Homo sapiens: one gene and its partners. The protein of the gene in region 1 interacts with the protein of each later gene in a pairwise test. Each region holds a gene or a part of one and is shown in the gene's direction. Other genes may lie near its edges.

Region 1 (2,441 bases):
AACAGCTTGCATATAATTTTAAATAAAATACCCCCTCTCTCATCTCCTCCTGGGATTAAGGGAAGATCCTTGGTTATCTCTGCTTGGGCAGTGAGTTGCTGTGTGATCCACTTGTTTGATGCTTCATCCTTCTCTAAGGAGCTGAAAGTCATCTTGCTTTGACAATTGTTGCAAAAGTGTTATATTTTCAAGTTGTTGTTTGTTGGATTATGAACATTTAAAAACTAGTTTGTATAAATGGAATTGGCAAGTTTATCTGCCTAAGATACAATTTCAGAGTAGAAGGTGAATAAGCTCTTTGGTGGCTCCTTCCAGTGTGGTGTGTCCACAGGGTCATTTACTGGGGCTTCCCACTGGCTTACATCCCTCCCGCTCCAGCCTCAAGTTCACCTGCGTGCTGTTCTCTTCCACTAGGAAAACGCTGCCGCGGTCCACAGTGTCGATTCTGGATGACCACATTAGCCACTATCCACAGCTAGAGGATCCCATGGGCTTCTTGAATGCATATATGGGCTTCATCAACTCCTTCTGAGCTGGAAAGAGTAGCTTCCCTGTATTACCTCCCCTACTCCCTTATGTGTTGTGTATTCCACTTAGGAAGAAATGCCCAAAAGAGGTCCTGGCCATCAAACATAATTCTCTCACAAAGTCCACTTTACTCAAATTGGTGAACAGTGTATAGGAAGAAGCCAGCAGGAGCTCTGACTAAGGTTGACATAATAGTCCACCTCCCATTACTTTGATATCTGATCAAATGTATAGACTTGGCTTTGTTTTTTGTGCTATTAGGAAATTCTGATGAGCATTACTATTCACTGATGCAGAAAGACGTTCTTTTGCATAAAAGACTTTTTTTTAACACTTTGGACTTCTCTGAAATATTTAGAAGTGCTAATTTCTGGCCCACCCCCAACAGGAATTCTATAGTAAGGAGGAGGAGAAGGGGGGCTCCTTCCCTCTCCTCGAATGACGTTATGGGCACATGCCTTTTAAAAGTTCTTTAAGCAACACAGAGCTGAGTCCTCTTTGTCATACCTTTGGATTTAGTGTTTCATCAGCTGTTTTTAGTTATAAACATTTTGTTAAAATAGATATTGGTTTAAATGATACAGTATTTTAGGTATGATTTAAGACTATGATTTACCTATACATTATATATATTTTATAAAGATACTAAACCAGCATACCCTTACTCTGCCAGAGTAGTGAAGCTAATTAAACACATTTGGTTTCTGAATAAATTGAACTAAATCCAAACTATTTCCTAAAATCACAGGACATTAAGGACCAATAGCATCTGTGCCAGAGATGTACTGTTATTAGCTGGGAAGACCAATTCTAACAGCAAATAACAGTCTGAGACTCCTCATACCTCAGTGGTTAGAAGCATGTCTCTCTTGAGCTACAGTAGAGGGGAAGGGATTGTTGTGTAGTCAAGTCACCATGCTGAATGTACACTGATTCCTTTATGATGACTGCTTAACTCCCCACTGCCTGTCCCAGAGAGGCTTTCCAATGTAGCTCAGTAATTCCTGTTACTTTACAGACAGGAAAGTTCCAGAAACTTTAAGAACAAACTCTGAAAGACCTATGAGCAAATGGTGCTGAATACTTTTTTTTTAAAGCCACATTTCATTGTCTTAGTCAAAGCAGGATTATTAAGTGATTATTTAAAATTCGTTTTTTTAAATTAGCAACTTCAAGTATAACAACTTTGAAACTGGAATAAGTGTTTATTTTCTATTAATAAAAATGAATTGTGACAAAAGTGGACTCTGGCTTCCCCTCCCCCCTCCCCCCCACCCCTCTGGGATAAAAATTTTCCAGCATTGCCAGGAGCTTTCAGGTACACATTAAAGAATAAAATGAAGTTAAGCAGCTGGAGTATAGGATAGTATTTGATTTTCAAGATCACCCAAAGCTGCACTATCGTCCCAAAGCTGACCAAGTAGAATAAAAAGAAAAAAAAAAAAAAACAACCCATGCGCAAAGATAGACATTTGCTTGATCTGCTGGCTCAGGGCCAAATGTTTAATTTGCTTCTCCAAAGTCATTCATCTTCAAAAGTCTGATTCTGGGAAACTGATGCCACTAGCCTAAAAGCCCACTGACCATGTAGTGTGCATCAGTTTCCTCTTGTCCAGTAAGCATTTATCCAACAGAAGCTAAGATAACATCTACAGGTGTTCTCTCTTTACTTCTGACAGTCACCTGCATGGTCACTCCATCGGCTAAGGCCAGCCTGGACCTCACCAATAAATCATAGCCACCTCTGAATATACCTGAGAGAAAAAAGTAAGGAAAACCATATTAAGAACCCAAAACAAGCACTGGATAATGAAATTTATCATGCTATCCCTGCATCTCCTTTCTATTAGTTTAGTTTAGCTTTTCCAGAGACTTGTGGAAACTGAATCCTAAACAAACATAAATTCCAAATA
Region 2 (3,500 bases), on another chromosome or scaffold:
GTGGTGTGATCTTGGCTCACTGCAACCTCCACCTCCCAGGTTCAAGCAATTCTCTTGCCTCAGCCTCCTGGGTAGCTGGGATTACAGGCACGTATCACCATGCCTGGCTAATTTTTTTTTGTATTTTTAGTAGAGACAGGGTTTCACCATGTTGGCCAGGCTGGTCTTGAACTCCTGACCTCAGGTGATCTGCCTGCCTTGGCCTCCCAACATACTGGGATTACAGGCGTGAGCCACCGCACCTGACCTAGAATTTTTTTTTTCATGCTACTTCTTTGCCCTATAACTTATGTAGAAGTATGTGTCTCAATTTCCAAATAATTTGGGATTTTTCAGATACCTTTCTAATTTTAATTTTTTAGTTGACTTCTGTTGTGGTCAAAGAACATTACATAATTGAAATCCTTTGAAAGCCAGCTAATTTTTGTATTTTTAACAGAGACAGGATTTCACCATGCTGGGCAGGCTGGTCTCGAACTCCTGACCTCAAATGATCTGCCCACCTTGGCCTCCCCTCCCTGTAAAGTGCTGGGATTACAGGCATGAGCCACCGCACCCGGCCTTCATTGCAATATTTGGTCTGTTCATATTTAACATAATTAATGATATGGTGGGATTTAGGTTCACCATCTTGCTATTAGTTTTCTGTTTGTTCCTTCTGCTCCTTTGCTGTCTTCTTTTGGACTAATCAGGTATTTTTTAGTATTCCGTTTTTTTCCCCACTCTTGTCTTATTAGCCATGCTTTTTTTTTTTTTTTTTTTTTTGAGACGGAGTCTTGCACTGTTGCCCAGGCTGGAGTACAATTTGCAATGGCATGATCTTGGCTCACTACAACCTCTGCTTCCCAGGTTCAAGCGATTCTCATGCCTCAGCCTCCGCAGTAGCTGGGATTATAGGTGTGCGCCACCACACCCGGCTAATGTTTTTGTATTTTTAGTAGAGACAGGTTTTCACCATTTTGGCCAGGCTGGTCTCGAACCCCTGACCCCAAGTGATCCACCCACCTCGGCCTCCCAAAGTGCTAGGATTACAGGCGTGAGCCACTGCCCCGGCCCCTGTATTTTAAGGATTGTTCTAGTGTGTGCACTCAGTTTCCTTAAGTTATCACAGTGAGCTTCAGATATTACACTATTTGATGTTTAACGTGTGGCTCCACACAAGTGTTCTTCCATTTCCTGCCTTTGTGCTGTTGTCCTTCACTTTGCCTGTGATCTGAGCTTCCCAGCACGTTATTACCTTAGATGCAAACCACTGATGACGTGAAACACGCCTTAAAATATATGTGGAATGTAAAGATGTTGAACTCACAGAAGTAGAGAGTAGAATGGTGGTCAGGCGCTGGGGTGGTCAGGGGAGACGTTGGATACAGAATTTCATTTAGATAGGAGGAATAAGTTCAAAAGATCCGTTTTACAACATGGTGACTACAGTTAATAACAATATAGTCTCAAAAAAATGTGTAGATTTTAAGTGTTCTCACCACAAAAGTCACCCCATATATAGTTACCTCATATAGTTGCCATTTCTGGTAACCTTCATTTTTTTTTTTTTTTGAGACAGAGTCTTGCTCTGTGTCCCAGGCTGGAGTGCAGTGGTGCGATCTCAGCTCACGGCAACCTCTGCCTCCCAGGTTCAAGTGATTCTTGTGCCTCAGCCTCCTGAGTAGCTGAGATTACACCCACCTACTCACCTGGTTAATTTTTGTATTTTTAGTAGAGATGGGGTTTTGCCATGTTGGCCAGGCTGGTCTCGAACTCCTGGCCTCCAGTGACCCTCTCGCCTCAGCCTCCCAAAGTGGCAGGATGACAGGCATGAGCCACCGCGCCTGGCCCAACTATTATTTCTTAATATTTATTTTCTTTCTTTAAAAATTTTTTTTCCATACATATTCTGCTTACGTATATTTCTTTATGTGGATGCAAATTTCTGTCTTGTCATTTCTCCTCTACTGAAGAACTTTAACATTTTTTGCAGTACATGTATGCTGATGGTGATGAATTCTCTGTTTTTGTTTCTCTGAAAATGCTTTTATTTCACTGCGTATAGAATTTTAGGTTGACCTTTTTTCTTTTATCGCTAAAGATGTTCTCTCATTTTCTTCTGTCTTTCATTGATTCTGATGATAAATTACTGATAATAATTATTTTTGGTGGTTTCTTTTTTTTTTTTTGCTTTTAAGATTTCTCATTGTCACTGGCTCTTAACAGTTTGGTTATGATGTGTATTGGTGTGATTTTTTTGTGTATATTTTGCGTGGAACTTGTTGAGCATCTTTGAACTGTTGGTTTATACTTTGCATCGAATTTGGAAAATTTTCAGACAGTTCTTCCAGTATTTTTGTGCTCTCCTTTCTCCTCTTCCTGCTGTCCAGCTCCCTGTGCGTTCCTTAGCTTAGATTTTCTCACAGCTCACCGAGGCTCTGCTTACTTTCTGCAAGCTTTTTTCTTTCTGTACTTCAGTTTGATTTGTTTCTATTACTTTATTTATTTATGAGACAGGTTCAGGCTCTGTGGCCCAGGCTGGAGTGCGGTGGCGCAATCTCCGCTCACCGCAGCCTCTGCCTCCCGGGTTCAAGCCATTCTCCCGCCTCAGCCTTCCAAGTAGCTGGGATTACAGGTGAGCGTCACCACACCCGGCTAAGTTTTGTATTTTTAGTAGAGTCGGGGTTTCAGCCTGTTGGCCAGGCTGGTTTCAAACTCCTGGCCTCAAGTGATCCGCCCAGCTCAGCCTCTCACCTTCCCTTTCCTTCTTTCTTTCCTTCCTTCCTTTCTTCTTTCCTCCCTTCCTCCCTCCCTCCCTCACTTCCTTCCTCCTTCCCTCCCTCCCTCCCTTCCTCCCTCCCTCCCTTCCTTCCTTCCTTCCTTCTTTTCTCTTTCTGTCTTTTTTTTTTTTTTTTTGAGACGGTCTTGCTTGGTCACCCAGGCTGGAGTGCACTGGTACAATCTTGGCTCACTGCAAGCTCCGCCTCCCAAGTTCAAGCGATTCTCTGCCTCAGCCTCCCAAGTAGCTGGAATTACAGGCACGTGCCACCATGACTGGCTAATTTTGTATTTTTAGTATAGACAGGGTTTCACCGTGTTATGCAGGCTGGTCTCGAACTCCTGGCCTCAGGTGGATCTGCCTGTTTTTGGCCTCCCGATGTGCTGGGATTACAGGCGTGAGCTGCTGTGCCCGGCCCTAAGTTAGTTTTAATCTCCTTTAATACATTTTTCATTTAAGAGATTGTAGGGCTGGGTGCTTTGGCTCATGCCTGTAATCTCAGCACTTTGGAAGGCTGAGGTGGGAGGGTCACTTGAGTAGCCGGGATCACAGGCATGTGCCACCATTCCTTGGTAACCAGCTTTTAAAAAAACATAATCAGTCCTATTTCCCTGCTGAGGGTACATGTCTCATGATTTATTAGCTGTCTGACTTTAGATATAAAGGAAGCGTGGAGAGGGAAATTTCTGTTCTCCCCAGGAGGTGTTCGTTCTGTTTTAGTCCAGGCCAATAGGGCTGG
Region 3 (2,543 bases), on another chromosome or scaffold:
TGATGGATGCAGGGCATCTGTCCAGCACATCATTGGTGACCTTGTCTGTGAAAATTGGAGCAGAACAGGTGAGAGTAAGTGGGAGACCCATGTGATGTCATCAAGGTTGACCTGTGTTTCACCCACAGCCGGGACGACCACAGCCTCCAGCCCCCAGAGCTCCATGGGCACCTCAGGTCCTCCCACGAAGCTGCCCGTGCACACCTGGCCCAGCGTGACCAGAAAGGACAGCCCCGAACCCAGCCCACACCCTGGGTAAGGTGCCTGCGCATAGGACTGGGCCACGCTGGCGGCCTCCCCACTGCGTGTGATGTTTAGGGGACTCGGATGTCCCTTCTTCCAGTCCCTTCTTTGTTCGCACCTCCCACACCAAACGTGAAGGTTCTATTAAGTGTCAGGCGCTCCTTTTGGGATTGGGTCACAGCAGGGAACCACACAGCCACTGTCCTGCCCTGGTGGAAGTTGAGTTCTACTGCGTGGATTCACGCATTGAGCAAGTCAGCACAGAGGCTGATGTACAAATACAGCAAAGGGTAATGAATGCTGGGATGAGATGTTTGACTCTTGGGTTTGGGGAGAGCGTGTGCAGGTGTTGGAGTTGCTATTTCACTGACGATGATCAGAAGAGGGTTTGAGAATTAGAGGACATGAGCACAGAGACCTCAAGGGTTGGGGGCTGGGCACTCTGGGGTCTGGAGGAAGAAGGGTCCAGGTGGAGGGAGGAGTGAGGCAAATGTCCTGCGAGGAGCCTTGGGACCTGGCCAGGCCAGGGAAGGGGGCAGATGCTCTGGGGTCCGGTGGCCCTGGTCCTCTCCCCTGCCTCTCTCGCAGCCCTGGCCAGAGTTTCATCCTGTTTGATAAGCCCAGTCCTCTGAGGAGCTGAGAGCTGAGCTGTCCATTCATTAATTCCTTCAACAACCACTGAAGTTGTAGGGCAGATTATTGGAGACTCCGGGTAGGCAGCAGGTACTCACTGTGAATGAAACAAATGGTCCCTGCCCTCCTGGAAACGCTGTGTACAGGAGAGTTGACACCAAACAAATAACCCTTTGTGAATTCCGGGACCCCAGCTGGGTAACCCTCCATGGGGAGCACAGAGGTAGACAGCTGCGTCCTGGACACAGACCCTGCCTGGATCCCTGGCGTGACCTCACGTCCTCTCATGGTCCTGCCCTTCCTGTGTCACAGTCCTCAGGTCAAGGGTAAATCCGAGGCTGAGGGTTAGGGGCCGTGATGCTGAGACGGGATGGACTGTCCAGGGGGGTGCTTATGTGGTTGGCTGTGGTCACAGGATTGGGACACAAGGGTCAGGGGATGGTGGAGGGCACCTGGGCCTCCCCTGGGGAGGTGACTCACTGCCTGTCACCGTGTCCCCACAGCTCCCTGTTCAGCAATGTCCGCTTCCTGCTCCTGGTCCTCTTGGAGCTGCCCCTGCTCCTGAGCATGCTGGGTGCCGTCCTCTGGGTGAACAGACCTCAGAGAAGCTCTAGAAGCAGGCAGAATTGGCCCAAGGGTGAGAACCAGTAGCATCTGCTGTCCATCAAGGCCCTGTGCTGCAACAGAGCCCCTCTGGGGGACTGGAATGACCTCCTGACCACTCCCTCCCGGGCTGCTCTCTCCACATCTCCTGGAATCCTTTGTGAGCCTCCTTCAGCCTTTTCCCTGTGCCCGATCCTCATGTGTCACATGTGAACCTGACGGACATGGACGCCCTGAGCTGTGAGTCCACGTCTCATGTGCACGCCCCGGCCAGCTAAGCCTCGGGCCGTCAGCAATACCTCTGAGTGCCCGGATGCCCTCCCTGCACCCTTCCATTTCTCCAGGAGCCTGGCACTGCTTCCTCCACCGTTTTCACAGGGAGAAGCAGGTCTAGGACTCCCCTGCACCTTTGCCACCATAATGGCCCACACTCCCTGGGTCCAGGAGTGTAGAATATGCGGCTGCTTCCATTTGCTGAGTGTGTCGATTCAATGATGCTTTCAAACTTTAATAAATGACAATGTGTAGGTTTGGGATGTATCAGGCCCACTCAGTCAGACCTGAGTGAGAAATCCATTGTTCCCTGATTTCCACAGGCCTTTGCTGAGAATAGTGGACCAAGCCCCATGTTAGGCCTCTCGGAATGGGGGTCCCTGCAGAAAAGGATCCAGAATTTCCCCCAAAGCCTGACTATTCCCTCCTTCAGGTAGACACATCCTGGCCAGTGTCTTTAGGTCCCTCTGGGAGAGCTGGTAGAAGATTCTCAGTGTGAACTGTGGTAGCATAACCAGGCCTACCCTTCCTCCTTCTTCAAGGGGACCTGACCTCTCCTTCATTCCAGGGCTGTGGGTTTTAACTGGTGCAAATTTGGAAACGGATGGAGGGCTATGACTCCTTGATGTGGTAGTTAAGTGAGTCTTTTGCTCAGTAGTGTAGACCATGTCTGTCTATACAGACGAAAGATGTTATCATTTGCCCACCATTTCAGTTCCAGGGTCGCCATGATGACCTGGCCAACACCCAAGACCCCTGTGAGGCAGATGATTCCCATGAGTCCTCCTGGT

Evidence for each region. Proteins that work in one complex are often made in the same cells at the same time.
Region 2: the proteins of MEST (region 1) and ING5 interact in a two-hybrid assay, tested with the Homo sapiens proteins (one large-scale study listed by BioGRID and IntAct).
Region 3: the proteins of MEST (region 1) and CD300C interact in a two-hybrid assay, tested with the Homo sapiens proteins (one large-scale study listed by BioGRID and IntAct).

The regions. Positions count from the first base shown.
Region 1 is NC_000007.14:130,504,525-130,506,965, forward strand, and holds the end of MEST (mesoderm-specific transcript homolog protein), read left to right. Parts: intron 1-414; coding exon 415-532; 3' UTR 533-1,941; downstream 1,942-2,441. Other genes in the region: COPG2 (coatomer subunit gamma-2), read right to left, coding at 2,152-2,282.
Region 2 is NC_000002.12:241,715,539-241,719,038, forward strand, and holds part of ING5 (inhibitor of growth protein 5), read left to right. Parts: intron 1-3,500. UniProt on the Homo sapiens protein: Component of the HBO1 complex, which specifically mediates acetylation of histone H3 at 'Lys-14' (H3K14ac) and, to a lower extent, acetylation of histone H4. Component of the MOZ/MORF complex which has a histone H3 acetyltransferase activity.
Region 3 is NC_000017.11:74,540,573-74,543,115, reverse strand, and holds the end of CD300C (CMRF35-like molecule 6 precursor), read left to right. Parts: intron 1-128; coding exon 129-255; intron 256-1,379; coding exon 1,380-1,527; 3' UTR 1,528-2,043; downstream 2,044-2,543.